2 separate regions of the Homo sapiens genome follow, and region 1 is linked to region 2. Evidence: fine-mapped expression QTL. A gene starts in region 2. The other region holds a variant in brackets. All regions are shown on one strand. Distances are between the middles of the regions.

Region 1 (13,543 bases), 23 kb after region 2:
AGGTATGCCAGTAGCCTCTAGAAGCTGCGAAAGGCAAAGAAAGGGATCCTTCCCTGGAAATTCCAAGAAGAAACCTTCCTGCCAACACCTTGATTTTAACGCAGTGAGACCCACGTTGAACTTCTGACCTATAGAGAAAAAATTTGTGTTGCTTTAAACTCCTAAATTCTGATAATTTATTTAGTATCAATAAAATACTAATACACTATGCAAATAACAAAGAAAATTTTAAAAATTAAATTTTAGCTAAATTTTGTTGCCTGTGTTACATGACTTAAAAAGTAACTGGGTTATTTATATCTTACTACAATGTCTTGCTTCCTTCAGGGTCTCACTGTTGCCCAGGCTGGAGTACAGTGGCACAGTCATGGCTCATTGCAGCCTCGACCTCCCGGCCTCATGCAATCCTCCCACCTCAGCCTCCTGATTAGCTGGGACTACAGGCTCATGCCACCTCACCTGGTTAATTTTTTAAAAAACCTTTTGTAGAGATGGAGGGTCTCACTGTGCTGCCCAGGCTGGTCTCGAACTCTTGGCTTCAAGCAATCCTCCCATCTCGGCCTCTCAAAGTGCTGAGATTATAGGTGTGAGCCACCATGCCTGGCCTACAGTTTTTTTTTTTCTTTGAGACGGAGTTTTGCTCTTGTCGCTCAGGCTGGAGTGCAATGGTGCAATCTCGGCTCACTCCAACCTGCAACCTCCGATTCCCAGGTTCAAGCGATTCTCCTGACTCAGCCTCCCGAGTAGCTGGGATTACAGGTGCCTGCCACCACGCCCAGCTAATTTTTGTATGTTTAGTAGAGATGGAGTTTCACCATGCCGGCCAGGCTGGTCTCCAACTCCTGACTTCAGGAGATACTCCTGCCTTGACCTCCCAAAGTGCTGGAATTACAGGCGTAAGCCGCTGAGCCTGGCCCCACAATTTTTTTAAAGAAGTAACTGGACACGCGTGATAGCAGGCACCTCTGATACCATAGGACAAGAAGGGTACTTTATGTCTGTGGTCTCCTACCCCAAAATTCCTAACGCCAGTCTAAATATGAGAAAAACATTGGATAAATCCAAACTGAGGAACATTCCATAAAATACATGTACAATCCCCAAACTCTCAAGATCATGAAAAACAATGGGAGACAAAAACTGTCACAGACCAGAAGAGACTAAACAGACATGAAAACTTGCTACAGTGGAGGTATCCTGAATTGCATCTTGAAAAGGGCACTGCAGAAATACTGGTGAAATCTGAATAAAGCCTGGAGTTTAGACGCTAATAATGTACTGATGTTGCTTTCTTAGTTTCGACAAACATTCTATGGTCATGTAACGTGTTGACAATAGGGGAAATTGGATGTGGTGTATACAGCTCTGTACAACCGTTGCAGCTTTTCAATACATTGGAAATTGTTCTAAAATTTACAAATTATTATTGGCCAGGCACGGTAGTTCACGCCTGTAATCCCAGCACTTTGGGAGGCCGAGGCAGGTGGGTCACTTGAGCCCAGGAGTTCTAGGTGAGCCTGGGCAACATGGTGAAACTCCATCTCTACTAAACATACAAAAATTAGCCAGGCTTGGTGGTGCGTGCCACAGTGCACAGCGCACAGCCATAGCTCACTGGAGCCTCAAACTCCTGAGCTCAAGCCATCCTCCTGCCTCAGCCTCCCAAGTAGCTAGGAATACAGGTTCATGCAACTATGTCCAGCTAATTTTAAAAGTTTTTGTAGAGATAGGGTCTCACTATGTTGCCCCGGCTTAAAAATTATTATTATTATTATTATTTTTTGAGATGGAGTCACACTCTCTCACCCAGGCTGGAGTGCAGTGGCGCAATCTCGGCTCACTGCAACCTCTGCCTCCTGGGTTCAAGCGATTCTCCTGCCTCAGCCTCCTCAGTAGCTGGGATTATGGGCGCACGCCACTACGCCTGACTAATTTTTGTTTATTTTTAGTAGAGACAGGGTTTCACCATGTTGGTCAGGCTGGTCTCGAACTCCTGACCTTGTGCTTAGTCTGCCTTTGCCTCCCAAAGTGCTGGGATTACAGGCATGAGCCATCGCACCCAGTCAAAAATTATTTTTTAAACTGCACATAGTGGCTCATGCCTGCAGTCCCAGCACATTGGGAGGCCGAGGCAGGAGGAGCACTTGAAGTCAGAAGTTCCTTGCCAGCCTGGGCAACATGGCAAGACCCAGTCTTCACAAAGACTGAGTGGCTTGGCCCTGGTGCAGTCACATAGGTCCCTGCTAGCTGAGCTGAAATTAAAACCCATTCAGGGCAGGGCGCAGTGGCTCATACCTGTAATCCCAACACTTTGGGAGGCCAAGCCAGGTGGATCACCTGAGGTCAGGAGTTCGAGACCAGCCTGACCAACATGGAGAAACCCCGTCTCTACTAAAAATACAAAATTAGCCGGGTGTGGTGGCACATGCCTGTAATCCCAGCTACTCGGGAGGCTGAGGCAGGAGAATCACTTGAACCCGGGAGGCACAGGTTGCAGTGAGCCAAGATCGCACAATTGCACTCCAGCCTGGGCAACAAGAGCAAAACTCTGTTCAAAAATAAATAAATAAATAAATAAAACCCATTCAGTCTGACTCCTGCGTGGCTCATCGGGCCTGTGGACTGGACTCTCCTTTTCCCTCCACACCCCCATCTGAGCAAATTCAGTCCACGAGCAAATCATGCAGGTGGCACCTTCACAATGATCCTGAGGTGACACTTCTCACCACCTGCCTTCTCCCACCTAGTTTGAGCACCCTTCATCACTTACCTGGACTAACCAACTGGTCCCCCTCTTCTCCCCAAAGGTGTGATGTGGCCTATTAACGCCCGAGCCACAGCTGAACCCTTCTCTGCCCAGGACCCTCTGCTGGCTCCCCAGCTGCTCTGAGTAATAGCTAGAGCTTTGCAGCAGCCGCAGGCCTTTGAAGCTGGGACTTCTCTCCCTGAACTGCCTGCTGCTCTCCCCTGCTCACACCAGGCTGGATGCAAACTTCTTCTCTGGGTCTCAAGCGTACCGATCACGCTCCTGCCTCAGGGCCTTTGCACGAGCCATTCCCGCTGCCCGGAATGCTCTCTGGCCAGATAGCTGCTTGGCTGACCCATCACCTCCTACAAACCTTGCTCAGACCTTGCCTTGAACTCTTGGCTTCAAGTGATCCTCCCGTCTCGACCTCTCAAAGTGCTGAGATTATAGGTATGAGCCACTGTGCCTGGCCCACATTTTTTTTTCTTTTTTCTTTGAGACAGAGTTTTGCTCTTGTCGCTCTTGTCTCTTGGCCATGCATCTAGAGGGCGTCCAGCACAGAGTATGTGCTCAATACACAGGTGAAGAAGGACAATCCACGAGACAGCTGTCCCTCTCCCAGGACCCTGGGAAATGCTGGGGATGGGGAAGATGTTCAGATGTCAAGAGGAATAGGGTCTAGTGTCTGGGCTCTCATTTGAGTGCTCTTCCTGTTCACAGGAGTGGATGGGCTGCACAGTTGGAGCAAAACCGAGATGAGTTTTAAGGGCCACTGAGCATCTTCCCCACTGGCAGTCTTTCCCAGTGTCCTGGGAGATGCACAGCTGTTTCCTGTGTTGTCCTGGATCCCTAGAAGATGGGCCAGGCTTGGAGGTAGAAGGAGAGCTCAGAGGGGAGGGGGCAGAGAAGGGACTGCCCAGATGTGACACATCTGGAGTCTTCAAATCTGCACCAGGACAGATGAGTAGAGCTGCATTTTTCCACCCTGCTCATGTTGGCCTTTTGTGAACTTTGTTTCTGCCCTGTCTGCATTGCCCTTAGGTATTCACTGCAACTAGTTATCACTGGAATAAAAATGGCCATAGGCATTCTGCCCTTCCTTCACCTCTCTCTTCTCCATCCCTTCCTTCTTCCTTCTTCACCTGTGTATTGAGCACATACTCTGTGCTGGACGCCCTCTAGACGCATGGCCAGGGTTGTCCTCATTGATGAGGCAAGATCTGAGCAAGGTTTGTAGGAGGTGATGGGTCAGCCAAGCAGATATCTGGGCAGGGAGCATTCCGGGCAGTGGGAATGGCTTGTGCAAAGGCCCTGAGGCAGGAGCATGATTGATATGCTTCAGGCCCAGAGGGGAGGTCTGCATCTGACCTGGTGTGAGCAGGGAAGAGCGGCAGGCAGCTCAGGAAGAGAAGTCCCAGGTTCAATGACCTGAGGGCATTGCAAGGCTTTAGTTCTCACTCAGAGGAGCTGGGGAGCCATTGTGCAGTGCAAGAGCCAAACTGAATGGGTTCCAATTTCAGCTCAGCTAGCAGGGAGCTATGTGACTGCACCAGGGCTGAGCCAACCCACCTGTGCATGAGTGACAGCACCTCACGGGTTCCAGAGCTCGCATGTCCATGGTCCAGCTTAGTGCGTGGCACGCCAAGAATACTTGAGAAATGGCAGCTAAGGACTGTCGCCTCAGGAGGGTCTCTTCTCATTTCCAAAGCTGTCTTCTGCTTGATGAAATGCACACAGACACTGGGCAAGTATGTGTTGAGCTTCTAATCTCTCCCAGACACCGGAGACTCAGCCATAGACTGGCCGAGTTCCCTGCCCTTGTGCTGCACTCCCCTTGAGGAGACAGATGATGGGGACATGTAAGGAGCTAAGACATCCTGAGCTGGGAAGGAGGGAAGCAGGGGCTAAGGGATGGAGGCAGCTGGTGGGGGCAGGTGGGGGTGGCAGGGATGCCTGGAGCCTGGGACTGGGGCCGGACTCTGCACTGCTCTGCTTGAGGACCTAGCTGGGCTCTGACTCATGAGGGCAGACAGTGGCCAGGGTGAGGCTGGCGCAGTGCAGCCCCTTCCCCACTGCTGAAGACGCTGCCTTTGTGGGGTGGTAGCACAGGCTTTGGGGAGTTGAGAGCCATCCTCATCCTAGAGGTGGTTGTTTCTGGAAGCAAAAATCCAGGGTTTATGCTCCTGGGACAGGGGAACCTTGGGGCCTCGCGTCCTCCCCATAACCTTCGCATTGGGCAGCAAAGGCATCTTCCTGTTGAGTCTGAGGGAGAGAGAAGTGGTGTCACTCGCGGTGTCAGCTTTCATCTCAC[A/TTAGTCCTCACA]GTGGCCCTGTGAGGTAAGGACCATGATCAACCCAGTTTACAGATGAGGACACTGAGGCTCAGAGAAGTTACATGGTTTGTCCAAAGTGACACACTAAGTGGCTGAATGGGATTGAATCCAGGTCTCTCTGAGACAGCCCAAGCTGTTGATGGAACCCTCTGGCTCACGGATGAGCAGGTAAAGTGAACAAACACTTTAGAATGCTTATCTGGGGGTGGGGGTGCAGGGAATTGAGCCTTCTATGGGGCCCGGAAGATTTACAGTTGTCCCTCGGTGTGTGTAGGGGAATCAGTTTCACCACCTTCCACAAATACCAAAATCCACAGATGTTCAAGTCCTGATATAAAATGGTGCAGTATTTGCATATAGCCTAAGTACATCTTCCCGTAGACTTTAAATCATCTCTAGATTACTTATGCAATCACATGTCAGATAATGATATTTCAGTCCATGCCAGAATGCACATAGGATGGTGGTCCCATAAGATTATAATGGAACTGCCCTATACAGGTGCACCATCTCTAAAAATTGATATCTCAAAAGAGATGGGGTCTTTTTATATTGCCCAGACTAGTCTAGAAGTCCTGGGCTCAAGTGATCCTCCCAGCATGGCCTCCCAAAGTGCTGGGATTGTAGGTATGAACCACCATACTTGGCCAGGTGTACCATTTTTTATCATTTATACTGTATTTTTATGATCCTTTTCTGTGTTTAAATACACAAATAGCCACCATTGTTTTTGTTTGTTTGCTTGTTTGTTTGAGACAGAGTTTCACTCTTGTTGCCCAGGTTGGAGTGCAATGATGCGATCTCAGCTCACTGCAATCTCCGCCTCCCAGGTTCAAGCGATTCTCCTGCCTCAGCCTCCTGAGTATTTGGGATTACAGGTGCCCGTCACCATGCCCAGCAGATATCTGGGCAGCCATTTTTTGTATTTTTAGTAGAGACGGGGTTTCACCGCGTTGGCCAGGCTGGTCTCAATCTCTTAACCTCAGGTGATCCAGCCGCCTCGGCCTCCCAAAGTGCTGGGATTACAGGCATGAGCCACCATGCCCGGCCCACAAATAGCCGCCATTATGTTACCATTGCCTATAGTACTTAGTACAGTAACATGTTGCAGAGGTTTGGAACCCAGCAGCAACCAGCTCTACTATTCAGCCCAGGTGTGTGTTTGGCTGTAGCCTCTGGAGGAAGCTAAGGAGAAGTGACCTAAAGGCAGAGGGTGAGTCTGAGGTGGGATCCCAGGACAGGTACAAGAAGTTAGGCAAAAGAGGATGAAATCTGAAAAAATTTCACTATGTTAATATAATTACTGCGTTAATAACTTTAGATAATAGTTAACATTATTATTTAGTTAACAGGATTGCACCCAAGATAAATTAATTTTTTTAAAGAGATAAATTCTCATTCTGTCACCTAGGCTGGAGTGCAGTGGTGCGATCATAGCTCACTGCTTCCTGGAACTCTTGGGCTCGAGCAATCCTCCTGCCTCAGCCTCCTGATTAGGTGGGACTATAGGCACACGCCATCATGCCTGGCTATTTTTTTTTACTTTTCTCTAGAGGCAAGGCCTACCTGTGTTGCGCAGGCTGGTCTCAAACTCCTGGGCTCAAGTGAACCTGCCTCAACCTCTCAAATTGCTGGGATTACAGGTGTGAGCCACTACAGCCAGCCCACATTTCTTAGTTTGGACAAATGTGCCATGGTAATGCAAAATGTCATTACTAGGGGCAGCTGGGTATAAGGTGTAGAGTACACTACAGTGTCTTTTCAATTTTTCTGTGTATCTAGAATCATTTCAAAAGTAAACATTTATTTTAAAACGTGAAAGTGTTTATCCTTCCATGAGTGTAAAGTACAAAAGACAGGCTCATGGTGTCAACGGAAGTCAGGACACTGGTTGTGGGGCCGGGGGCGCTGGAGGGGCTGGCCATGGTTGGCTTTGTGATCTGGGGGCTGGTGTGTTCCATCTGTGAATGTCTTTCGAGCTGCACACTTACCAGGGATGTAAGTCATGTCTTAATACATTTTCTTAAGTTTAACACCAAATAAAATGAGAATGAAAAGCTTGTTTGGGTTGTGGGGATTCGGTTGTTTATCCAGTCATGAGCCCTGGCCTAGATGCTTCTAGAAGCCTGGAGGGAACTGAGAACATTCCAAGTAGAGGTGGCAGAGCCAAGGCCCTGAGGTGGGAACACACTGCTGCATGTCTCTAGCTGTGAATGGGGTCCCCTAGTCGGAAGCAGTGCTGTGTGCCCTGCAGGGCCAGCAGGTCCATGTCCACATTATGGGTCAGTGCAGTGAAAGCCAATCTCAGCCCCCTCCGCAGTGTGACCAGCCTGCCAGCAGGTGGCCAGCTGGTCCATCCCAGGGACTGGGTGCAAGTCTCTTGTCAATAGAGAGGGCGCTCAGCCATGGTGTCAGCCTAGTGAGCCTTGGTAAGGGCCCGTGCAGGATGCTGAACCTCTTCCGTCCCCATGACCGTCTCAAGACCACTTGCTCGGTGGGCGCATCCAGCAGGCGTGGTGGCCGGGAAAGAAGCAGGCTGCATCCATAGGGCGTGCCATTTTGCTCGACTCAGGACCCAGAGCATCCTCCGTAGTAATTCTCTTCGGTGGGAGCACTGGGAACTTGAGCCACAGATACCTTCCAAGTCTGAGCTGCTGAGGCGAGGGCTGCAGGGCGCCCTGCTGTCAGGAAAGCCTGCACCAGCAGCTGGAAGGCACGTGGTGGGGGCGCCTGCTGTGGCTCCAGCAGTGGCTGCGAGGCTTCGGGATCTCACCCAGCTTCTGCGAGGTGAATTGTGACAGTGCAGAGCTCCGCAGTGCCAGGGTCCCCTGCATGGTCATGCTCACTGCAGCTGGGAGCCCACCACACCCCTGGTGCCCCTCACTTCCCAGGGCTGGGGTCTAGTCCAGACCCCTCTTGGCTTGGGAATTGTGCCTTGGGAGGGGGACACTGTCCCACAGGTTGGGACAGAGGCCCCAGGCATGCTGCTGGCTGGCCGGGGCTGCGGGGATGCCATGCTCACCTTTCTCTCTCGTGGCCTTGATGGGACTGGCTTCCCCATTGAACGGGATTTTCCGAGGTGTCTGGGGCTGTGGTGCAGCTTGCGGGGTGCCACCCTGACCCCTTCCAGACTTGCCAGTCACTGACCACCGAGCGGGCCAGACACAGGTGCCACGCTGCAGTCGGGGTATCTCCCGACCTCCCTTTTAGTCCTGATGGGCCTGGGCAGGGCCTGGTTTCGGGGTCCCCATGGGCTTCCTGGGCTAGGCTGTCCCATGGTCCTGGGGCTGTCCAGGACACATTTGGAAGGGACTTGGACCCAGCAGCTCTGTTCAAAATCATAACGGGGGGCAACGAGGGCCCCCCACATCCAGGTTCATAGGGATGGAGCCGTGGCATGGAGTTCCACTGGAGGAACCTCCAGGAAACCTGAGGTTCCCCCTGAGCCAGGGCCAGGCTGGGCACACCCTCAGTCCCCGGTGCCCCCAGAGAATGGCCTGCTGCCCTAGGTTCCATGGAAGCCCCCTCGTGCCACTGGGCCTTGGCCTCACAGATAGTCCCATCAGGACAGGGTATGAAAGGACGAGGCACCCATGGAGGGGAAGCTGACCAAACGGGCCACCCATGGCGGGGAAGCTGGCCAAATGGGCCACTGGAACCGAGTTGTTGGGCCAGGAGGGGCCTGCCTGTCCCCCTGCCAGAGGGTCTTCCTGCCAGGTGAAGCCAGCCCAGGCCTGGGTGCCAAGGACCCTTGCTCAGGTTTGGCTGAAAGAAACAGACGTGGTCAGCATCTCCAGTGAGCCCACGCAGTCCTTTCTTGGCCGGGCTCCACCTGCCTGGGTCTCTGGAGTCCTCAGGGTCTCTGTGTAGCCCCTGTGGTCTGACACTGAGGACACACCTGCAGGCTGCTGATCGCAGACGGAGGGGTCTGTGCCTCCTGTGGTGGGAAGCTGTCGGGGTGCAGCAGGTGGCTCCTGGGACTGCCCTCCCCCAGAGTTCAGGCTGGCTGGGGGCTTCCTGCCCCATGCCGTCATCCCAGGACTGTTGAGCCTGGGATACAGCCTCCAGTCAGAACTCAGGTGGGAGGGGCCTTGGCTGTCACCCAGTCCCCTCGCCACCTCACATGGAGACCTGTTTCCACGGTGGGTGAGAGAGCCCAGATACAGAGCCCCCTCTGCCCTCCTGGGCTGCCCAGTCCATGCCAGGACTGACCGTTCCCACACCTGGCTGAACTCTTGGCTCTGGCTCTGGGCCAGGGGTCCCCCCTGTGCCCACCCACTAAACGCCCTGGTCGGGGATCAGGGACATAGATTCCCTTGTCTCTCTGGCTCAAGGCTTGTTGTCCTGGCACCCTTGGAGGGGTGTTCAGGAGTGAGGAGCCTCTGCTGCTCTCTGAGGCTGTCAGTGCTCGCAGGGAGGGGTGGGGAGTCCCATAGATGGATCTGGTTCCTCCAATGACCCTGAGGGCCCTTTGAAGGGGAGAGTGGGACATGGTGGAAAGTGGGAGGGGGCTTGTTGGAGAGTCTTGCGCACATCCCCCTCCTGCTTGCACAGCACGTCCGGTACACACAAACTGACCACCTGCCCTGAGGACCTGGGGGCCTATTGTACTTTCTTAGAGTCCGGAGGAAGAGGAGGAAGAAAAGGCGAAGAGGAAGGCCCAAGTAGTAGTGTTGGAGGTCCTGGGCACTCCCCAACTACTGACTGCCCCAGGGGGTGACTCGGGAGGGTACCTGGTGCTGCAGGCCACCTGGGGGTGGCAGGTCCCCAGGCTTCCTTGTTTCCTCATAGAGGCCCAAGGGTGTCTGAGAACTGCATCATCATCCAGGGCCCAGGTATGGGAAAACTGGTCCTGAAAACATGCCCACGGCCACACCTGGATATCTTCACGAGGTGCTCTAGGGACAGGGTAGGCATCAGGCTAGGAGTGTTCCCTGGGAGGGGTCAGAGCCCATACCCCGTTACTACCTCAGCATCTCCCACTGGGGAGTGCCGGATCCCTTTGTGGCCACCCCAGGGGTCCAGATGTGCACAGGAGGCTGTGGCTAGGGGGCAGCCTGAGCAGGGAAGTGCTCACCACACTCCTGACTTTCATCTGGGTCATGTAGGGGATGGGCTCCCACAGGAGGGGGTATGTCACTGTTCCCTGCCCAGCCTACCCAGCCAGACCTCCCTCTGGGCCAGAGAAGAGGATCATGGGGACAGTGTGAGGAAGCTGCCACCGGGCCAGTCAGGGTCTGACCCCTGTGCTCCCCAGTCCCCATTGGGCACACGTGGACTTACTCCTCTGAACCTTAAAGGCAGTGCGTGCCATTGGCGTCAACACCTGTTCCCCTTCTAGCAAATACACGTCCCAAAGGCTCAGGGTGAGCCCGAGAGAGATCTGTGGGGACAGCAGGTGTGGGAGGACCTGGCCCTTCCAGGCTGGGGGCTGGTGGCTCGAGCCGGGCCCACTGGGGCTTCAGTCCCCCAGTCACTGACCCTTCCCATGAGGGTCATCAGACCCCTTCAGGAGGCTGGGTCAGACAAGGTCTTGCAGCTCCTCATGGGGGAGCACTCATTTCAGTGGGGATGTGGCTTCTGGAGAGAGGGGCTTCCCCAGGACTTGAGGCTTCCTTGAGCCCTCCCAAGTGGGTCCTGGCCCAGTCTGCCCATGAGGCTGGGCCTGAGTCCCAGCCTCTGCCGTGGGATGACCCCTCTTGGGCAGAGGGCTTTGCTTGTGTGTCCTGCAGATATCTGCCTGTGCCTCCTATGTGCTGGGGGTGAACCGGACCCCTGGGCGAAGAGCAGGGCCCTGTAGGGCAAGGAGGGTCCCTGAGCCAGGGTCTCCCTGTGCCTCCTTACCCCATTGATCAAGCTCCAAAGCAACCAACCTAATGAGGAACCCTGAATGCATAGCCCTTCCTTGTCCTGATGGGAGGAACAGAGGTGCTCAGGTCCCTCTGGGCTGCCCTAAAAACCTCCCTCTTCCAGGGCCCTCTGAAGACCCTTCCCCAAGTGCAGAACACTGGGCGGTGTCCAGGGCTCCTTACACCTTCCCCTCCCTGCACTCCTGGTGGACACACTGTCCTTAGCCCTGCTCTGTGGGAACTGGCCCCAGTCCCTGTGCCTCTGTCTCCTCCAGGGCAGGAAAGGAAACCCAACTCCAAATCCATGGAGAACCCCACGTCCCAGGTCAGGCCCTGGCTAGAACTCACCCTCTCACCAGCCCCATGAGGGTCTGGCAGCCCCTGGCTCCTCCGGCCCCACAGGATGCAGGGCCACTGGGGAAGAGCTGGGGGGACCATAAACTCACTGCGTGCCTCATGGTCTTGGGGTATGGCCTGGGTGCCACATGCTCCTGGTGGTCTTGGAGGCCCTGGACCCTTGCGCTATTTGGGCTGTGGAATCCTGAGAAGCCCCCAGCCCATCATGAAATCAGCCTGCTCCCAAGATGTGGGACCATCAGCTGGAAGAGCTGGACAGCTGCAGAGGCCCCTGAACCCTGAGGTCTCCCACCCTCTCATCTGGGGACCCCACCATGCGGCCTTGGCCCTGGGGAGGAGGGGTGGGAATATCCCCTGGAGCCTGGCTGGAGGTGCTCCTGGAGGCCTCCTGGGCCAGGGTGCTGGGAGGGCAAGCCTGACTTTGAGGCCACGACAGAGGGCGGGTGCTGGGCTTCATGGTGGTCTCCTAGAAGTGGGGTCGGGCCAGGGGACACGGGATGGGGAGATGTTGCCATCAGGGCTTTTTCGGCCCATCTGTGGGTACCAAGGGCAGCTGGAGGGCAGGACCCTCAGGGAGGGGAGAGTCAACTGTACAGCATTCAGAGCCAGAGGGCGTTGCTCCAGGACACAGAGGGTGGCCACGGGGATGATGAGATGCCCTCTGCTGATGGGGGTGAGAGGCATCTGACTCAGGATCTGGGGGTCCCGGTTCAGCCCCAGGACCCTCAACAGAGACATCCTAAAGGCTCCAAACAAGCTGGCAACACAAGGAAGGTGCCTTCACGGAAAGTTGAGATCACCTGCCCAGGGTGGCCGTCCCCGGGTCTGGCTGCATGAGGCCCTGGGGGCAGCTGTCCACCCACCCTGCAGGGAGTGCCTCTCACCAGCCAGCATCTGGGCCAGTGCCCAGAATATGTCCTCCTCAGGCAGATAAAGGAGGAACAAGGCGGCGACGTGGCTCAGGTCCCTGCAGTAGTCTACCTCCTGAGAGAGCCAGAGTTATGGTGGAAAGACATCACCTGGGAGGGCTGAGGTCACCTGGGACGATTCATGTCATCGGAGAGGGCAGAGGTGACTGGGGAAACTTCCTTTGAAGAAGAGGCTTCCTCAGGATGCAAATTCATTTTGTGACAAGAGCCATGTCCATCAGGCATTTCAGCAATTTGTCCAAAATGTCTCCTGAGAGCACTTGTCCTGTGTGCGACACTGCCAAGCTTTGGAGCCCAGTGGATGCCCTTAGTTCCTGGATCCACAGAGACTTATGGAGCCTGTGCCTGGGGCTTTCTAGAGGTGGAGGCGGTGGGGTAGGGGGAAGGGCGGGAGAGGAGGCCTTGCATGGCATAGTGCAGGGCAGGAAGCCAGCCAGGGACCCGTTTGCAGTGACTGCTCCCATCCCCATGCTGACCTCCAAACCCACCCCTACCCCACCCTGGCGCAGGGTCGGGCCTGGGAAGGTGTCCTCTGCTTTGGCCTCAGCAGATCACAAGGAGGAAGCCAGCAGCCCGGTGGGTGCACCACTCGAGCCAATGGTGACCTACAACTTCTACTTCATGGAGCGTGGGGCACCCGCCCAGGAAAGCCCAGGCACACCCCACACCCCTGACCTTGAGGGCACAGGGAGGTGGGGGACCAAGGTCCTGCAGCCCTGTGCATGTGTCCTGAAAGGTGGTCTAGGAGTCCTGTGTGCACCTGTCCAGGGGGGCCCAGAAGCCTGAACAGTGGCAGGGAGGGAGAAAAGGAGGGAGAGAGAAGTGGAGAAGAAGGAGAGAGAAAGAGAGATGGGAAGAAGGGAGTGAGATCGAGAGAGAGGAAGAGAGATGGGGACAGAGACAGAGGAGGCTGAGAGGACGAGGGAGAGAGAGACACAAAAGGCAAAGAGAGAGACAGGGAGAGAGAGGTTCATGAGTAGGAGTTCGGGTCACTCTTGATGCCAGTTCCCAATGCAAACTTAGGTTGCTATCACCTAACCACACATGCAATAAAGTCTTCTGCCTGCTGCTTATAGCCCCCAAGAACCCCTTCTCCTGGAGAATAAAATCTTTTTTTTTTTTTTTTTTTTGAGACAGAGTCTCGCTCTGTTGCCCAGGGTGGAGTGCAGTGGTGAGATCTTGGCTCACTGAAAGCTCCGCCTCCCAGGCTCAAGCGATTCTCCTGCCTCAGCCTCCCGAGTAGCTGGGATTACAGGCGCCTGCCACCGCGCCCAGCTAGTTTTTGTATTTTTAGTAGAGAGAGGTTTCATCATGTTGGCCAGGCTGGTCTCGAACTCCTGG
Region 2 (16,083 bases):
GCCGAGGCAGGCGGATCGCGAGGTCAGGAGTTCGAGACCAGCCTTGCCAACATGGTGAAACCCCATCTCTACTAAAGATACAAAAAATTAGCCGGGCATGGTGGCGGGTGCCTGCAGTCCCAGCTACTTGGGAGGCTGAGGCAGGAGAATTGCTTGAACCTGGGAGGCAGAGGTTGCAGTGAGCCAAGATTGTGCCATTGCACTCCACCTTGGGCAACAAGAGTGAAACTCCATCTCAAAAACAAACGAACAAACAAACAAAAAAAACTCTCATAACTCTACCCGCACGGTGTTTTCACATTATGATTTTTTTTTTTCCTTTGAGACAGGGTATCACCCTATTGTCCAGGCTGGAATGCAGTGGTTCGATCTCGGCTCATTATAACCCCGACTTCCTCAGGCTCAAAAGTGATCCTCCCACCTCAGCCTTCCAAGTAGCTGGGACTACAGGCAGGCACCACCACACCTGGCTAACTTTTTGTTGTGGTGGTTGTTTTTTATTTTTTGTAGAGATGGGGTTTCACCATGTTGTCCAAGCTGCTCTTGAACACCTGGGATCAAGTGATCCACCCACCTCCCAAAGTGCTGGGATTATAGACTGAGTCACTGCACCTAGTCCTATTATGATCACGCAGAACCCTCAGAGGTTAGGATGCATAAACTCATTTTGCAGATTTGGATGCTAGAGTCAGAGAGGAATGCGAGTTGTCCACGTTCCTCCCACTGGGACTGGCAGATGGCTGTGTCAGGATGGGGGAGCTCTGAACAGAACCTCAGGCCACCACTGAGTGAGCCTGGAGCTCCCCTCTGCTGGCCTGGAGCTGGAGGAAGGGCTGAGTGGCCTGAGGGAGCGGCACCTCCTCCATGGGCCCCTTCCTGGCACCAGCACAGGCCCCACAGGGCAATCTCCTTCCAAGGAGCCCTTGGAAAGCGAGTAGGGCCAGCAGTGACCCAAGAGTCAAGATCTGGCCTTCTTGCTGTGTGCCTTCAGGCAAGCCACATAACTCTTCTGGGCTTGAGAAATGAGGCTGCAGCTTCCCGATTCCCCCCATCAGAAGCCCCCTGGGATCTGAGAAGGTTTTGGCACTGGGGACTGGCATGGCGACCGTGGACTCACCTCCAGAGGAGGGCGTGATGCTCTGGGAGAAGCCTGAGGAGAAAGAGACGAGGGCCACAGGGTACACAGTCCAGGAAAGATACCGGAGCAGGTGGCTGTCCCCAATCTCCCTGTACAGCCACTGGTGTGCTGGGGACAGCCGCGTATCAGGGAGGCACCCACAGCCTCTGCAGCCCTCAGGGCCAGACACTGTGGTGCCCACTTACTGACCAGGAAATGGAGTCACGAAGAGGGGAGGACCAGGCCACAGAGTGAGGTGCAGACCCCCAAGAAAAGGCAGGAGTACGACCCTGGGTCCATATCCCAGGTTTACCACTGCCTAGCTGAGTGACCTTGGGCAAGCCACTCAGCCTCTCTGAGCCTCAGTTTCCCCATCTGCCAAGTGGGCTAGTGATTGGCTCTTCCTCACAGGCTCATTGAAGACTAAAGACATTAAAGACTAAAGGGCCACTGAGAACTACATGACACAGGTGTGAAGCACCAAACACCGTAACACCATAGTAGGTGCTGCTTCTGGCAGCTGAGGGTCTCCAGAGAAAGTGTCTTAGACCCTTCCTGCCCACACCCCCTCTTCCAGGGAGGCCTCAGGGTGGAGGCAGGCTGCTGAGGGAGCAGGGGGAAGACTCCAAGTTTGGTGATCTAGGCAAGTGTCCCCACTCCTGCCCCAAGGCACGGAGGAGGGAAGGAGAAGGAACGGGGTGGCTGGAAGAGGAGCCAGAGAGCTCAGAGGAGGAAGGGCTCTTGGGAATATTCAGGTCTCTCTTCCTTGTGCGGCTGAGGAGACTGAGGCCCAGAGAGGGGCAGGAGCCTGCCCAGGATCACAGAGCAAATCAGGAGTAGAGCCAGAGCCCTCCCCGCACCCAGGTCCGTCCCTGCACCGCTGCACTTGGTGGCCCATCTGGTATCCCCAGAGCGTGCCTAGAATCCCTTGGCCCAGAGCAGCACCTGCCAGGGAAGAGTTACCTCGGACCACACACCCGATGGCAAAGTTCATGGCATAGCTGACCAGGGCCATGAGCACCCCGAGGGTCATCAGGAAGTACCAGTCTTCTCCCAGGCGGAACACCTTCTGCTTTAGCCACTCCAGGCCACCTGGGGCAGGGTATCGGAGTCCCAGCTTATGTTGGGGCAAGGGGCACAGACAGCCCCTTCCCTGGAGGTCTGCTTGGCTCCAGGCAGGGAGGACCCTGGTAGTTGAGTCTGGGGTAGTCCTGAGGGGGCCCCGCCTGAGTCAGAGAGGAATGCAAGTTGTCCACGTTCCTCGCACTGGGACTGGCAGATGGCTGTGTCAGGATGGAGGAGCCCTGAACAGAACCTCAGGCCACCACTGAGTGAGCCTGGAGCTACCCTCTGCTGGCTTGCCTCACACTGGGGGCTGGGCAGGATTTGTGGCAGGTGACAGTGGTGGCACAGTGGATGCCAGGACTGCTGCCCCTGCCAGAAGGCCTTTGACCTGTCCACTCTCCCCACCCGTGCCTGTACTGGGAGGTTCCTGGGGGACAGGGAGTGTGAAGGGGGCTGGCAGCTATAGCTTTCACCTGTATCCCTGCAGGATCCATAGCTTAGAGAGCACCAGGGTCTAGCAGACTTCTGCGTGTCCCAGGGCCTGTGGCGCCAGGTATCCTCTGGGTCCCCAGCAATGCCCCTGGCCCGCTGGCTGCAGCCCAGCCTGGGAGCTGGCCCTCACTGGCTGTGGGCACCAGCCACTGGCACTGCACTTAGTCTCCTTCTGTGGTCCCTACTTGCTCTGCCCCGTAGCTGAGGGGACAGTCAGGTCTCAAAGTGAACAAGGCACATGGGGCTCCAAGGAAGGGTGCCAAGTGCAGGCTGCCCCAGCCCCTTGCTGTGCCCCCAGCTGTCCCAGCAGCTAACCCCCACGTCCCCTCATTGGCACAGGTAGGTGAGGGAGAGGCCTGGGTGGAAGATAGGCACAGTGACCAGGCCTTGGGCTGTATCTCCTGAAAGGCAGAGGGCAGATGCCTGGCCCATCTGACCCACAGACAGCTGGACAGACAGACCCCTTCCCTCCCTGCCACCCAGGAGACTTTGGGCAGTCATGTCCTGGACAAATGACAGGAGGGTGGTTCCTGGGCAGAGAGGTGGGGTGGGAGCCAGGCAGGAATGATGTCCTGAGTGGTCCCCCGCGGGTAGGGAAGAGGACCTGGCTCTCACCTTGGATGGCTCGGCGGATGTGGGGACAGGGGCCCCACAGCTCCTGCAGAGTCACAGGGTCCCCTGAGAAGCCCTCACGCAGCCCCACCAACTCCTCCATCAGGCCCCTGGAGAAGCAGATGGAGGGAAGGACCCGGGTGAGCTGCTGCACGTCCTCGCGCTGCCTCTGGGCCCTTCCAGTGCTCTCCCCACCCAAATGAAGAGGAAGGATTGTGCGTGTGTGTGTGTGTTATCACACTAGGTCTGTGTGTGCCCTCATCCCTGAGGTTCCGTCACTGAGGGTGTGTGCCTGTGTGTGTCATTTTGTGGGATGAGGGTGGGATTCCTAGGTGTCCCCCTGTGTCCAGCAGCAGACTGTGGACACCGCTCCCACCCTCCTGGGTCGCTTGGTGCTTCCACTACTGGGAGCAGTCTCTGCCCAGGGCTGTGACTCTCTCACTGCAGAGTCCCATGGATGGCTCCGACTCTCCCTGCCAATCTCGGAGCACCCTCCTTTCTCCCCGACAGCTCAGGTCACAGAGGCAGGAAAACCCCAGGACCAGAAGGCCTCTGCAAAGCCAAAGTGAGGTGCTGGCTACTGCCCCTACCATCCCCTATGCCCTGCCTGCCTGGCCCTTCCAGGTTCATACTCCAGTCCACGCCCAGAGACCCCTCACCTGTCAGTCCTCCTGCTGCGGCTGAACTGGCCCTCCTCTCACAGAGCCTCCTTTGCTCCCAGCTCCAGTGCACCTGGACAGGTATATGCTCTACCAATCATCACTCTCTCCCTGCCACCCCCCTTCCCCGCCGGCCGGGGTTTACCATGGAGATTAAAAACGTCCTTGACAAACCAACCAGAACTGTGGAGGCCAGAGCTGTGCAGGGCAGAACTGCCAAGAGAGAAGGGGAGCAGGAGCCTCCCCACCCATCACAGCTGCACAGAGGGTGGTGCCCAGCTGTACTCAGGCTCCTGGGTGCTGCTGGACGAGGGCTGGGAAGGGGGAGCTCATGCACACAGCAGGACAGAGAGGGGTCATCTGCCAAGGCTGAGACTCAGGGTCCAGGGGTCTCAGAGCTGGACATGGAAGGTTTGAAAAAGCACAGAGGGAGAGGGGAGGAGGCTGGGAAGGGAAGGAGAAGGCAGGGGGGCAATGGTGAGTGGGGCCAGCATGACCACAGCCTCCCTGTGTGTCAGGTAGAGAGTCAGCCTTCTCCCAGATTAATTACCCTGAGTGCCCACGGAAATCCCACGAGGCAGGCAGCGTGATCCCGTTGTAGAGAAATGGTGTCTCAGGGAGCTGGGGCTGCCTGTCTAAGATCACGGAGGCCGAGGCAGAGCCAGGATTCCCAGCCCAGGTTTGCCTGGCTCCAAAGCCCGCAGGCTGTGCCACACGGTCCCATCCTGATGACCCATCTTGTCCAGGGCTGGCGAGGAGGCCGACACCTGGGGCAAGGCAGTGAATTGGGGTCAGGAACTCGGACTTGATCCTGTGTCCAGACCCTCCAGGCTCAGGAAATGCTTCTCAAAGCACACGTCCAAGGGCCAGCGGCTCTGGTGGGGACTTCTGGGTAATTCCACAGAGTTTGTCCCACCCCAACAGAGGATGGCAGCACAGGTGTGAGGGGACATGGCGAGGAACAAGCACCTGCCGTGTGCCTGCGACGTGTCAGGAGCGTCACATCTGCAGCTCAAGTCCTCCTTCCCACACCCTGTGAATGGGGAGAGCCTCGCCATTTTGTAGATGGTCAGAGAGGTGAGTCACTCATCCAAGGTCACACAGCAGAGGCTGAACCCAGCCCCACACTGTGCAGCTCTTCCCCTGCCCAAAGCTCCTCCAGCTCCTGAGGCTGAACCAGGGCAATGGTTTGGGCACAGAACAGAAGAGTTGTGTCTGATGCCACTTTTGGGCAAGAGGTTGGGGACAATTGCCTCCACTCCCACCCAGACAAAGCCACCCTCTGAAGCTTATGATAGCCCTTGGATGATTGTTAAAATCTGGGACCCTGGGCCACCCTTTGCCCCTAGATGCCAGGCAAGTCAAATCAAAATCAAAGATGTGTGTTGTGGGAGGTGGGATGGGAGTTGCCGCTCTGTATGGACTCGAGCCCACCTTCACCTTGGCCACCCCGACCTGTTGACTCTGCACAGCACCAGAACTGGCTGCCCTGTCAACATCCCGATTTCCAGTGTCTGGTCTGGGGCAGCTGCTGGCTACTGTCCCACAGCCAGCACTGCACGTCCACATCTACCCTCACCCCCCAGCCCTGTGTGCACCAGGAGGCTGAGAAGAGGGCAGCCAGGGTGGCTCAGCAGGATGACCGGTTTGAAGCCAGCACAGCTCTGCTGACCCTAACTCTTTCATCAACTAGAGCCTCAGTTTCCTCTTCTGTATGATGAGGTGAGCCTGGAAGCAGGGGCCTGTCTCTGCCTTATTCATCTCTGAGTCCTTCAGAGCCTAGAACAGTGCCCAGCACCTATTTATAGCAAGGTTTCAATGAATACCTACTGAGTGATGAGGGCTTCATCACTGGCCTATGAGCTGGCTGTGTGGGGAGCTGATGGGAAGAGATGTGAGGTCCCTTCCCCAGATCCCAAATCAAAATCCTGGGGTCCAAGGAAAGGGTCTGTGTTTGTGAAAAGCTCTCCTGGGTGACTGGGATTCAAAGGACTGCATCATCTTTGTAGCTCCTTCTGTCTCTGTGATCTGAAGGTAGAGGCAGGGGAATGTCCTTGATGACCTTTTGAGGTCCCTCTGGGTCAGTGAAGCCAGAGGATCCAGTATTTGTGTGGGTGATGCCTCGGGAAGGGGGAAAAAGGGGAGGAGGAATGGTGGGCGGGGGTGGGTAACGGGATCTGACATCCAGGGGCAGTGACTCAGGCCCTCAGCACCATGACAGTGTGTCTGCATTTAGCCACCGGCTCCTGTTTCCCTGGCGAGCGGCAGGCTCTGGGCCCCCCACCCCGCCCCACCCTCTCTCCATCTCACCTCAGTGCTGGTGGCTTCCCAGCTGCCCTAGAAACCCCTCAGCCAGGCTGGGTGTCACAGGCCCCGACACGGGCAGGAAACTCTGCCAGAGGCAACAGGCCCTGTTGCTCCAGGCAACAGCCTGGCCCGCCGCTGTGCCCTGTGCCCTGCTCTGCTTCCACTCCACATACCACCAGCACCGCTAATACCCCTGTAGAAGGAGCTCTCCAGGATGAAGCTCCAGACTGGGTTGTAGGGGGCTCAGACAAAAGAGAAACTGCCCGTCTTCAAGAACCTTCAATCTAATGGGGAGACAGGTGAACCCTCGCCCCCGTGGGAACTGCCAGTTGGATAGGGAAGAAGGGACACAGCAGAGAGTCACAGCACACAGGAAGACTATGTCACACTGCCAGGTGCTGTGGGAGGACAAAGACAGTCAGTGCTGGGGGCATCTGGACTGGGTGTGGGCCCATGTGAGCAGGAGCAGTCAGAGAGGCCTCCCTGGGGGAGGAGGCATTGGAGCTGATCTGGGACGGAAGGGACGGATTTGGAGAGGACAGCAGAGGCCCTTAACTGCAACCTGGGCAGAGCAGAGGGCCTGGCCGCCTCTCAGAATGGCCTCCACCCTGGCCCAGGGCAAGGTCAGTCCCAGCTTTGCTGAGCAAGCAGGTGGGTAGGGAGGGGCTTCTCTGGCTCTTCCGGGCCAGCCTGTCTCCATAGGCACATGTTCAAACCACCTCGGCCTCTGAAGGGCTTTGGGTCCAACACATCTAGGTTCGAATCCCAGCTCTGCCACTTACGCAACTGCGAGCCCCGCCCTTTCCAAGAGGCTTCGCTTCCCCGTCCGTAACATGGGAAGAGCCCCTCCACCCTCCCAGCTGTGTGGGGATCAAACGGGGCCGTGCTGGACAGCTTGCAGCCAGGAGCCCATGCCCAGAAGGCATTCTAGAACTCAGGGCTAGAATAATTGTCTTCCGGAATTCTCTTTTACCTCTGACTGAAATCCCACCTAAGGCGCTCGCAGGCATCACCTCTGACACAGAGATGGAGCAGACAGTTGCCGGGAACACAACCTTCTAGACCTTTAAGGAGAAAGCTGCCAACTTTGTCCTCTTGGGGCTGCTGAATGTTCTGAGAGTCAGAGGGAGTGCAGGCACAGAATCCAGGTCCCCATGGGGGCTGGCAGGGGACAGCTGCACATTTTACACCCCCTGGCAGGGCTCAACCTTTCCTTAGAGATGGGCTGTGAAGGTTGTCTGCCTTGAGGGAAGGAGCTCCTGACGTCACAGAGCGGTGGTGCTTCCACCTACCCTGTCCCCAAGGAGCCTGCACACTGATGGAGGAGGTACAGCCGTGGAGGAGAACCAGAGTCTGGAGGGGAGGCACAGTCCTCAGGAGCCCCCAGGCTGACGGGGGAAACAAAACACACAATAAACCCCAAACTTGCAAGGTTCTGGGGCAGGCACCGAGGTCCGAGTGGCAAGGAGACAGGATCCAGCCCTGTGCAGTGGTGAGGAGGCCCCTGGGGCTGCTGTGATCAGCCTGGAATGTCAGGCTGTGAGCTCAGCCCTCTCGGCCTGCGTGTCGGGCTGTCAGCAGGGCCGGCGCACGGGAGAAGATTTCCAGCCCCCTCTGGGCCATGGAGAGGCCTAAATTTAGCTAGTAGACAAGGGGCTGGCCCCAAGCCCAGGGACAGTCGGCCTTATAAAGCGGCCGCAGTCGGAGCCTGGCACGCTCGCCCAGAGGCCTGCGCCCACACCCTCTCCTGTCCAGCCCTCGCCCGCCTGGGCAGGGCCCGGCGCCGTCCGTGGATGAGCCACAGAACCTCTTCCACCTTCCGAGCGGAGAGAAGTTTCCATTCCTCTTCCTCTTCCTCCTCCTCTTCCACCTCCTCCTCGGCCTCCCGTGCTCTCCCGGCCCAGGACCCGCCCATGGAGAAGGCCCTGAGCATGTTTTCCGATGACTTTGGCAGCTTCATGCGGCCCCACTCGGAGCCCCTGGCCTTCCCAGGCAAGTGATCCGGGCCCTGAGGGGAGGGGAGGTGCACAGGGAGGGGACGTCTGCTCCAGGGCGCCACCGAAGGCGCTGTGGCTGCCGGTCGGCCTGGAACAGGTGCTGCACAGCCTGCAGCCATGTGTGGCCACCAAGACAGATGTGGCCACAGGGACAGATGTGGCCATGAAAACAGGTGGGCCTCTAAGGAACAGTTGTGGCCCTGGGGGTTGGACATGGTTCCATGGCCACCCATGCTCTGTAACCACAGCCAATCCCAGCTGGAGCCCTGGAGGGCTGGATGGGTGAGCGGTGGGGGGCAGCCCCCAGGCTCCAGGCCTGGGGTGGGGTTGTTACAGACCTAGCCTCATATACACACACACTGTGCTGGGTGAGGCCCCACCCCCACCCCAGAAAAGGTGGGCTGTAGGAATGAGGAGGAGCTTAGGGAGAAACAGCTAGGGGGGAGGTAGGGCCTGGGGGAGCCGCCCCTTGCCCCAAGAGAAGGAGCCAGAACCCCCGGATCTGCATGCAAGGCCTGCTCCATGCCTCGCTCACAGCAGCCCATCCCACAGCCCGCCCCGGTGGGGCAGGCAACATCAAGACCCTAGGAGACGCCTATGAGTTTGCGGTGGACGTGAGAGACTTCTCACCTGAAGACATCATTGTCACCACCTCCAACAACCACATCGAGGTGCGGGCTGAGAAGGTGAGCCCCCCACCCCCTACTCACCGCATCCCAAATTCTGCTCCTGCCTCCAATGTCTCCTACTCCCCCTTACCATCCTGGGACCCCAGACCCTGGCCAGTGTCCCTTCCCCACCCAAACTCCCCCAGGGCTAACTGAAGGCCTTGTCCCTGCAACCCATGGCCATGGGGCCCCCTCACTGCCTCTCTTTGCACCGAGGTTCCCAGATCCTTTCTTCCAGGGCCTGAGCAGCTGAGGGAGCCTCCGAGGAATGGGAGAGGGATGGAGGGATGTGGGCAGAGGGAGCCTGAGGGGGTGGGGCTTGAGGGTGGGAGATGACAGGTGTGAGATGGTGATGGCAGAGTGAGGACAGCTCCTCTGGTAGCTATAGGGGGGCGGATGCGGGTAGGTGGGGAACTCACCTGGGCAGTGGGGGGAGGGGTTTCTCCATGTGACCCACCTCAAGCCCTCTTCCCTCCCACAGCTGGAGACCCATCCCCCATCTTGGGACCCCTAAATTAGGCCCGAGGCTGGGCAGGGGCCCTGCAGTTTCGGGTCACACACACTCCAAACCACACACAGCGCCCGCCCACAGGTCTCAGGGTCACTGGGTCTCTAGCGTGTCTGAGTCCGAACTTCTAGGAGGCACTGGGGCCTCCACCCTGGAGAGGGTATGGCCAGGCCTGAACAGGGGCGTTGCCCAGGGACAGCCACGGCTGCCAGGAGAGAGGAGAGGACCTGACCCAAGCCTCCTCCTAAGCCCCCAAGGACTGGCTTCTTCCCCTCCACATTCAAGGGTGGATTTCTGGGCGTCCCTGCCAGGGATGCCATGGACTGGGGGCACCAAAACCCACAGGCAGCATGTGCCAGCCCTGCCACCCCCAACAGTGACTCAGCCGCCCCAAACTCCCCTGGACACTATGTGCTGGCTGAGTTGCGGGGGAGGGGCCGGCGCTCAGCCCTGGCGGGCAGATGCCCAATGTGCCCGGGGATCCAGGAAGGCACGGCTCTCCTCTGTCACCTCCACGTTCCCCAGGAGCCCCAGATTCGGAGCCACTGCCACGGAGCCTCCTCTCTCTCCAAGCCCCACCTCTTCCCCATGTCCCTGGCCTGTTCCTTGGAGCTACTGGAGCTCTGCGAAGCACCCCTGCGCTGTCCCTGCAGAGCCTTTGGCCTGTGGCCATCACCACCCTGGGCAGCCCCTCGGCACCTGAGGGCAGAGCCCCTCGGCATGTGGGGTCTGGCTGGGGTTAGAATGGGGAGAAGAGGGCTCTGGCTTGTCACAAGCAGGACAGGGGTCGGGGCAGCCTGCCTGACGGGTCACCCCTTCCCCAGCTGGCGGCTGACGGCACTGTCATGAACACCTTCGCTCACAAGTGCCAGCTGCCGGAGGACGTGGACCCGACGTCGGTGACCTCGGCTCTGCGGGAGGACGGCAGCCTCACTATCCGGGCACGGCGTCACCCGCATACAGAACACGTCCAGCAGACCTTCCGGACGGAGATCAAAATCTGAGTGCCTCTCCCTTCCCTTTCCCTGTCCCCCCGCCCCACGCCTGCCAGCAAAGCCTCGCTAACCCCATTACAACAGCTCCAGGACATCTCAGCCCAGGTTCTAGCCCCCACGCACCCCAGACCCCAGGTGGACCATCCTCCCAAACTAGGGCCCTCCACTCTATCCAGGGCAGGCCAGGGACTCCCTGGCCTGACACATGATGCCCAGATTTCAGATTTGGCCTCCGTCACTTAATCCAGAGTACAGGGGCTGGGGTCAGGGAAGGAAGATCTAAAGAACCCACTGTGGGTCAGGGGAATGGGACCAGCAGGACATATGGGCAAGCTCTGCAGGACAGACAGACAGACAAACCCTCTGATCTATGAAGTCTCTGCAGGGCAAGGGGACCAGGGACCTGGAACCCTCTTGGCCAAGGGGAGTGGGAGGGACAGAGGGAAGGTCACAGGCAAGGGTGCCTATCTAAGTGGAACTAATTGCCCGAGGGCTCAGCAAGGCCAAGAGGAGACAGCCGTGACGGTAAACTTCCCCTCTACCAGCCTCCAAGCCCCACGCCAGCGAGCAGGCTGCCTGCCCACCCCGTGCCCCCAGCCAGCTGGCTGTGCCAGGGCAGAGCCATGCCACATCTGTATATAGATGGGGTTTTTCCAATACAGCTGGTTCGTGATAAACTGCATGAAACTCCTGCCGTCCTGCGCCTGCTGGGGCCTCCAGGCAAGGCCAAGTGGGGTTGGGGGTGGGGCTGGTCCTTCTCCCTCCCACAGGCCTGTGTTCTTGGGGCTGCTCCCATGCAGACAGGATCACCTAACAGAGATGGAAGCCAGGGCATGGATGGGGCTTTGGGTCCTCGAGGTTGGACCCCAGCTTCTTGCCACCTTCCCCTCCGGGCAGTCAGCTCTCCATCCATCCCCCTCTTTAATCTATGAATCTATAGGCTCGGTGTGTGTAACACACACACCCCTATCGTTGTCCTTCAAATACTCAGCATTACCATTGGTTGAGGCCAAATTCAGAGCTTTCTCAAATCAGATTTACAATCTCCATTTTCATTAACGGGGAAACATCCCCGAGCCACTGAGTGCTGTGCTTTGTCACTGAAGGTTAGATCTGAACCCAGGGTGTCAACTGCTGCTCTCAACTCCCCACCTCTGGGCACTGAGGAGTATTTCCCCTCATTCTACCTCTCTAAGGCTATGCAACCCTCCCCACGTCTTCCAGCTGGGGGATGGGGGGGAGTCATAGGAAAAGCCCCCATCTCCCATCTGGGATAGGGACCTTCCATCAGCCTTAACCCTGGGAAATGCCTGCTGCCCCCAATGACTCTTGGTTTCGTCTCCCACATACAGAAGCAGGGTGGAGGGGAAGGGTGGGTCTCAGTTAGCAGGGGTCCCCAGGGCAAGTCAGCCTCCTCCCTCCATGCCTCTCTGGTCAGTGTGCCTTAGGGTGGCCTCTCACTCCCACCACTCTGGGCCCCTTGGGGGAGGACTGGGGAGGGGGCCGTGGGAGAGCCCTGACGCTGGAACCTGTATACACAATAAAGGACAGTCTCACAGACTTCTGGAGGCCGCCTGCCTGGAGTTCTCAAACTTAGGGCAGGGCTGGAAACCCTGAGAGAAACAGACACACCTTCTTTGAGATTTGGGGATGGGGGTTGTAGCTCAAGTTAAAGCTGAAGACCTCACAAAATGTGGGCGTTCCTCGGCCTCCTCCGTGGGCTCCCCAGACCCCCCTGGGCAGGAACCCCAGGATTGTTTCTGGAAAACCCTTGCAACACCTTCTCGTCCAACTGCCTGCCCTTCCCTTTTTATTATTTCTTTCCTTCCAGAGATATTTACTGTCCTGCTATGTGGCGGGCACTGTTTCAGTCCCAGGCGCAGGGACGCAAAGGTGGGCAGGCTGCACCGGGTCGCCTGCCCTCTTGAAGCCCTTCTTGTACCTAATGGGGATTCTGCGGCCCAGAGAGTCTGAGTGACTGGCCCAGGGTCACACAGCCCCAGAGGCAAAGCCAGCTGGAACTTGGGGGCGGGGGTGTCCGGGTTGGTTCAGGGAGCCTGGGGAGGGGAGCTCTCCGGAGGGGTCCCCCACCCCTCACACCCCCAGGCTTGCTCCCCAGTGCAGCTCCACCGGCTGCGGTCAGGAGGAGGGGAGGGGATCAGAGGGGGCGCGGTATTTCCAGCCTCCATGACTCACTGATTCCACTGGGCTATTTGCAGCCCCGACACTCATTGGCGCGAGGTTGGGGGAGGAGCCAGCCTGGCTCCCCCTCCCACGCCCCCCACCCGGGGTCAGGCTCACCTTGGCGTACGGATCTCAGCGAGCCCTCCCTCGGCCGGCCGGTGCTGGGAAAGGGGGCAGCTTCCCAAGTGGTCAGTGGGGCCGAAAACCACCCCCAGCCCCCAGCAGCCCCCTCCCCAGACAGCAGTTTGCGAGGATGAGGACTGCTCAGGGGACCAAGCGGCCGCTGGGCCGCTGGGGCACGTCGGGTCTGAAGGAGCCCTTGGCCGCCAGCCCGGCCAAGGTGACCCTGCGGTAGGGGAGGGCGGGTCGGCCGCGGGGCTTTCGCCGGCTCCGCCCCCTGGGCGCCCAGACTGGCCGCGGCGCTTTGTCTCCCAGCGCCCCCAACCCCCTTCCAGGCTAAATATAGGCCTGGCTGCAGGCCCTGCGCCCCGCCCCCACCCGGAAGAGTAATTATAGCCGCCCCATTCATTGAGCAACTAGTGTGTGCCAGGCGCGCCGCTGATTCCCACAAGAGTCCTGCAAAGCAGGTACTATGATTAACGGTGTGCCTAGAAGGACACGGAGGATCAGCGAGGTCAGGCAACTGGCCCAAGGTCACCCAGCCTGGAAGTGGCACGGTTGGGATGTGAATCCTTGCTATGGCTCTGGAAGGCCATCTGCTGGGTCAACCTGGATCAGTCGCCACCACCAATGGGCTGAGGCAGCTTCCCTCCTCCCACCCTGGCAGCCCCCACAGGGAAAGGGGGCTCTCGCGTCTTGTAGCTTTGGGGGTGGGCCTGGGCAGCAGGTAGGGGAAATTGAAAAGACGCAGCTCTCTGGGGCTGGAGACCTGTGAGAAAGTCCAGGTCAGGTAGTACCAGAGACTGGGAGGGGCAGAGAGGACCTAGAAGGTTTCCTCACTTTGAAGGCCTAGCAGAGGCCAAAGGCCTCCTCCTCCAGGAAGCCCTCCAGAGCCAGAGCACAAAGAGCCCAGGCAGATGTTCAGAGCCCCTTCCCAAACCCTGTCTTCAAAGTCAGATGGAAGTAGCGCATGCTCAGGAGCCTGAGGTGAGAGGATCTCTTGAGCCCAAGGTTTAGAGACCAGCCTGGGCAACATGGCAAGAACCCGTCTCTACACAAAATACGAAAATTAGCTGGTATGGTGACGTGCACCTGTGGTCCCAGCTAGTCGGGAGGCTGAAGTGGGAGGATGGCTGGAGTCCAGGAGATGGAGGCTTCAGCGAGCCGTGATCGCACCACCGCACTCTATCTTGGGTGACACAGTGAGACCCTGACTCAAATAAAATAAAAAATGACCGGGTGTGGTGGCTCACTCCTGCATTCCCAGCACTTTGGGAGGCTGAAGAGGGTGGATTGCCTGAGCTCAATAAATACAAAGTATTTATTTGAAATCAGCCTGGACAACATGGCAAAACTGCATCTCCACAAAAAATGCAAAAATTAACAGGGTATGGTAGCACATGCCTGTAGTTCCAGCTACTTGGGGGTTGAGGCTGGAGGACTTGCTTGAGCACTGGTGGTTGAGGCTGCAGTGAGCCATGTTTGAGCCACTACACTTCAGCCTGGGCAATAGAGTGAGAACCTGTCTCAAAAAAAAAAGAAAAAGAAAAAAAAAGTGACCTTTTGTATTTGACATCTTTCACCTCGCATAATGTTTTCGAGATTCATCTATATTGTAGCATGGACCAATAATCTTTTCCTTTTTAAGGCTGAAACATATTCTGTTGCATGGCTAGGTCACAATTTGCTTACCTTTTCATCAGTTGATGGATGCTTGGGTTTGGTTCCACCCTTTGGTTTTGGTGACTAGTGCTGCTCTGTGCACTCGTGCAGATTTTCTTTTTTTTCTTTTTGAGACAGAGTTTCACTCTTGTCACCCAGGCTGGAGTGCAATGGCGCGATCTCGGCTCACTACAACCTCCGTCTCCTGGGTTCAAGCGATTCTCCTGCCTTAGCCTCCTGAGTAGATGGGATTACAGGCGTGCACCACCATGCCTGGCTAATTTTATATTTTTAGTAGAGACGGGGTTTCACCATGTTGGCCAGGCTGGTCTGGAACTCCTGACCTCAGGTGATCCACCCACCTTGGCCTCCCAAAGTGCTGGGATTACACCGGCCACTGCACGCCTGGCCATTTGTGCAGATTTTCACATGGACGAATGTTTTCACTTCTCTTGAGTATATATCTAGGAGCAGAATTGCTGGGTCCTCTGAAAGCTCCATGTTTGTTTGAGGAACTGCCAGACTGTTTCCCAAAGTGGCTGTACCATTTTACATTCTCACTGATGATTTTACTTAATTCATGGTTAATGAAGGAACCAGTAAGATGTCACAAGCAGTTCAAAGAAGGAGGCAAAGAACAGATGATATCTGTAGGTCAGGGAATATTGAAATGAATGTGCACAGAGGTAACACTGGCTTCTTCCACAGTTGGGAAGGAGAGTCCACTGGACTTGAACAGGACAGGACAGAATCTGCTTGTCTGTAGACAAGAAGTATGTTGCATTCCTACGGGCTACTTACAATAGACAGAGTTGTAAAATAGCTCAAAGGCAAAGAAAAATGCTCACCCCCTTGAGAATCAGACGATGCGTAGATGGTATTGGATATGTTTTGTGATCTTTTTTGCATATTCCAAGTTTTTCACACCTCTGTCACCTTGGGCCTAAAGGAAATAATGTATACAGTGGTCCATTTCCAAAACAAAGTGGCTTGAATAGGTTTGAGTCCGCAAACTACAGAAGAACAGAATATACTAGGCCCCTGCTTTGATAGCCGGCGCCTGCTTGTCGGGGCCCGCTTAGTTGCCCTCACCCAAACCAAAAAAGTTGAGTCTAGAATGAAAGTTCACTAGCCTGCAAAATAGCTCGCTTTGTCTATTCTTATCAGCTTGCCTGACTACCTAGGTCATAAGTCAGATACTTAAGAAAACCCTAAGCTGGCTATGATTGCAATGTATTGTGGGCTGCAACAAAATGCAACAAGAAAATCCTAAAGAAAACACCTAAAAGCTCCTACCCAACAACCAATAGGCGACATCCAGGAAGATTGTGATCCTACAGTACTCAGCCTATGAGGAACCAGGGGAGGGACCTGCGCACTAGGGGATAAATTGCTTGTTGTAACTGTGCTGGGTGTGCCTGCCCACCAGACACCCGATCTCGTAAGACCATCATTAAAAGTCTCTCTTCCACTGTTCTATGTGCCTCTGAGCCCATTCTTTGGGTTTGGACAGGTAAGTTGGTTTCTCACAGGCCTGATGACCTGGTCTCACACCTCACCTTCCCAGAGCAACTTCATCACCAACCTATATACCAATGCAGCCCCATTGCCAGCCTCAACCTCTGACCAGAGCTCCAATGGGGAATGGGTCACCACCTGCCCACATCCCCTCCGGCATGTCCCACAGTCCCTCACAC

Evidence for each region. PIP is the estimated chance that this variant, and not a neighbour inherited with it, causes the effect.
Region 1: its variant is fine-mapped to the expression of HSPB7 in lymphoblastoid cells (GEUVADIS, PIP 0.93).

Annotation. Positions count from the first base shown.
Region 1 is chr1:15,988,585-16,002,127 of GRCh38, reverse strand. It overlaps the pseudogene TBC1D3P6. Among named protein-coding and RNA genes, the nearest start is that of SRARP, 8.9 kb to the left of the region's middle. RefSeq lists a silencer at 7,336-7,485 and an enhancer at 7,392-8,232. The variant A/TTAGTCCTCACA (reference allele first, on the strand shown) is at 5,058.
Region 2 is chr1:16,009,926-16,026,008 of GRCh38, reverse strand. HSPB7 (heat shock protein family B (small) member 7) reads left to right here and starts at 7,966. Exons shown (of 3, transcript NM_014424.5): 1 at 7,966-8,244; 2 at 8,802-8,935; 3 at 10,250-11,980. The coding sequence starts at 8,046. The coding sequence ends at 10,429. CLCNKA (chloride voltage-gated channel Ka) reads right to left here and starts at 3,973. Exons shown (of 20, transcript NM_004070.4): 1 at 3,946-3,973; 2 at 3,290-3,396; 3 at 2,081-2,209; 4 at 1,118-1,246. The coding sequence starts at 3,389. RefSeq lists enhancers at 7,673-8,417, 8,418-9,164 and silencers at 12,501-12,760, 12,911-13,120.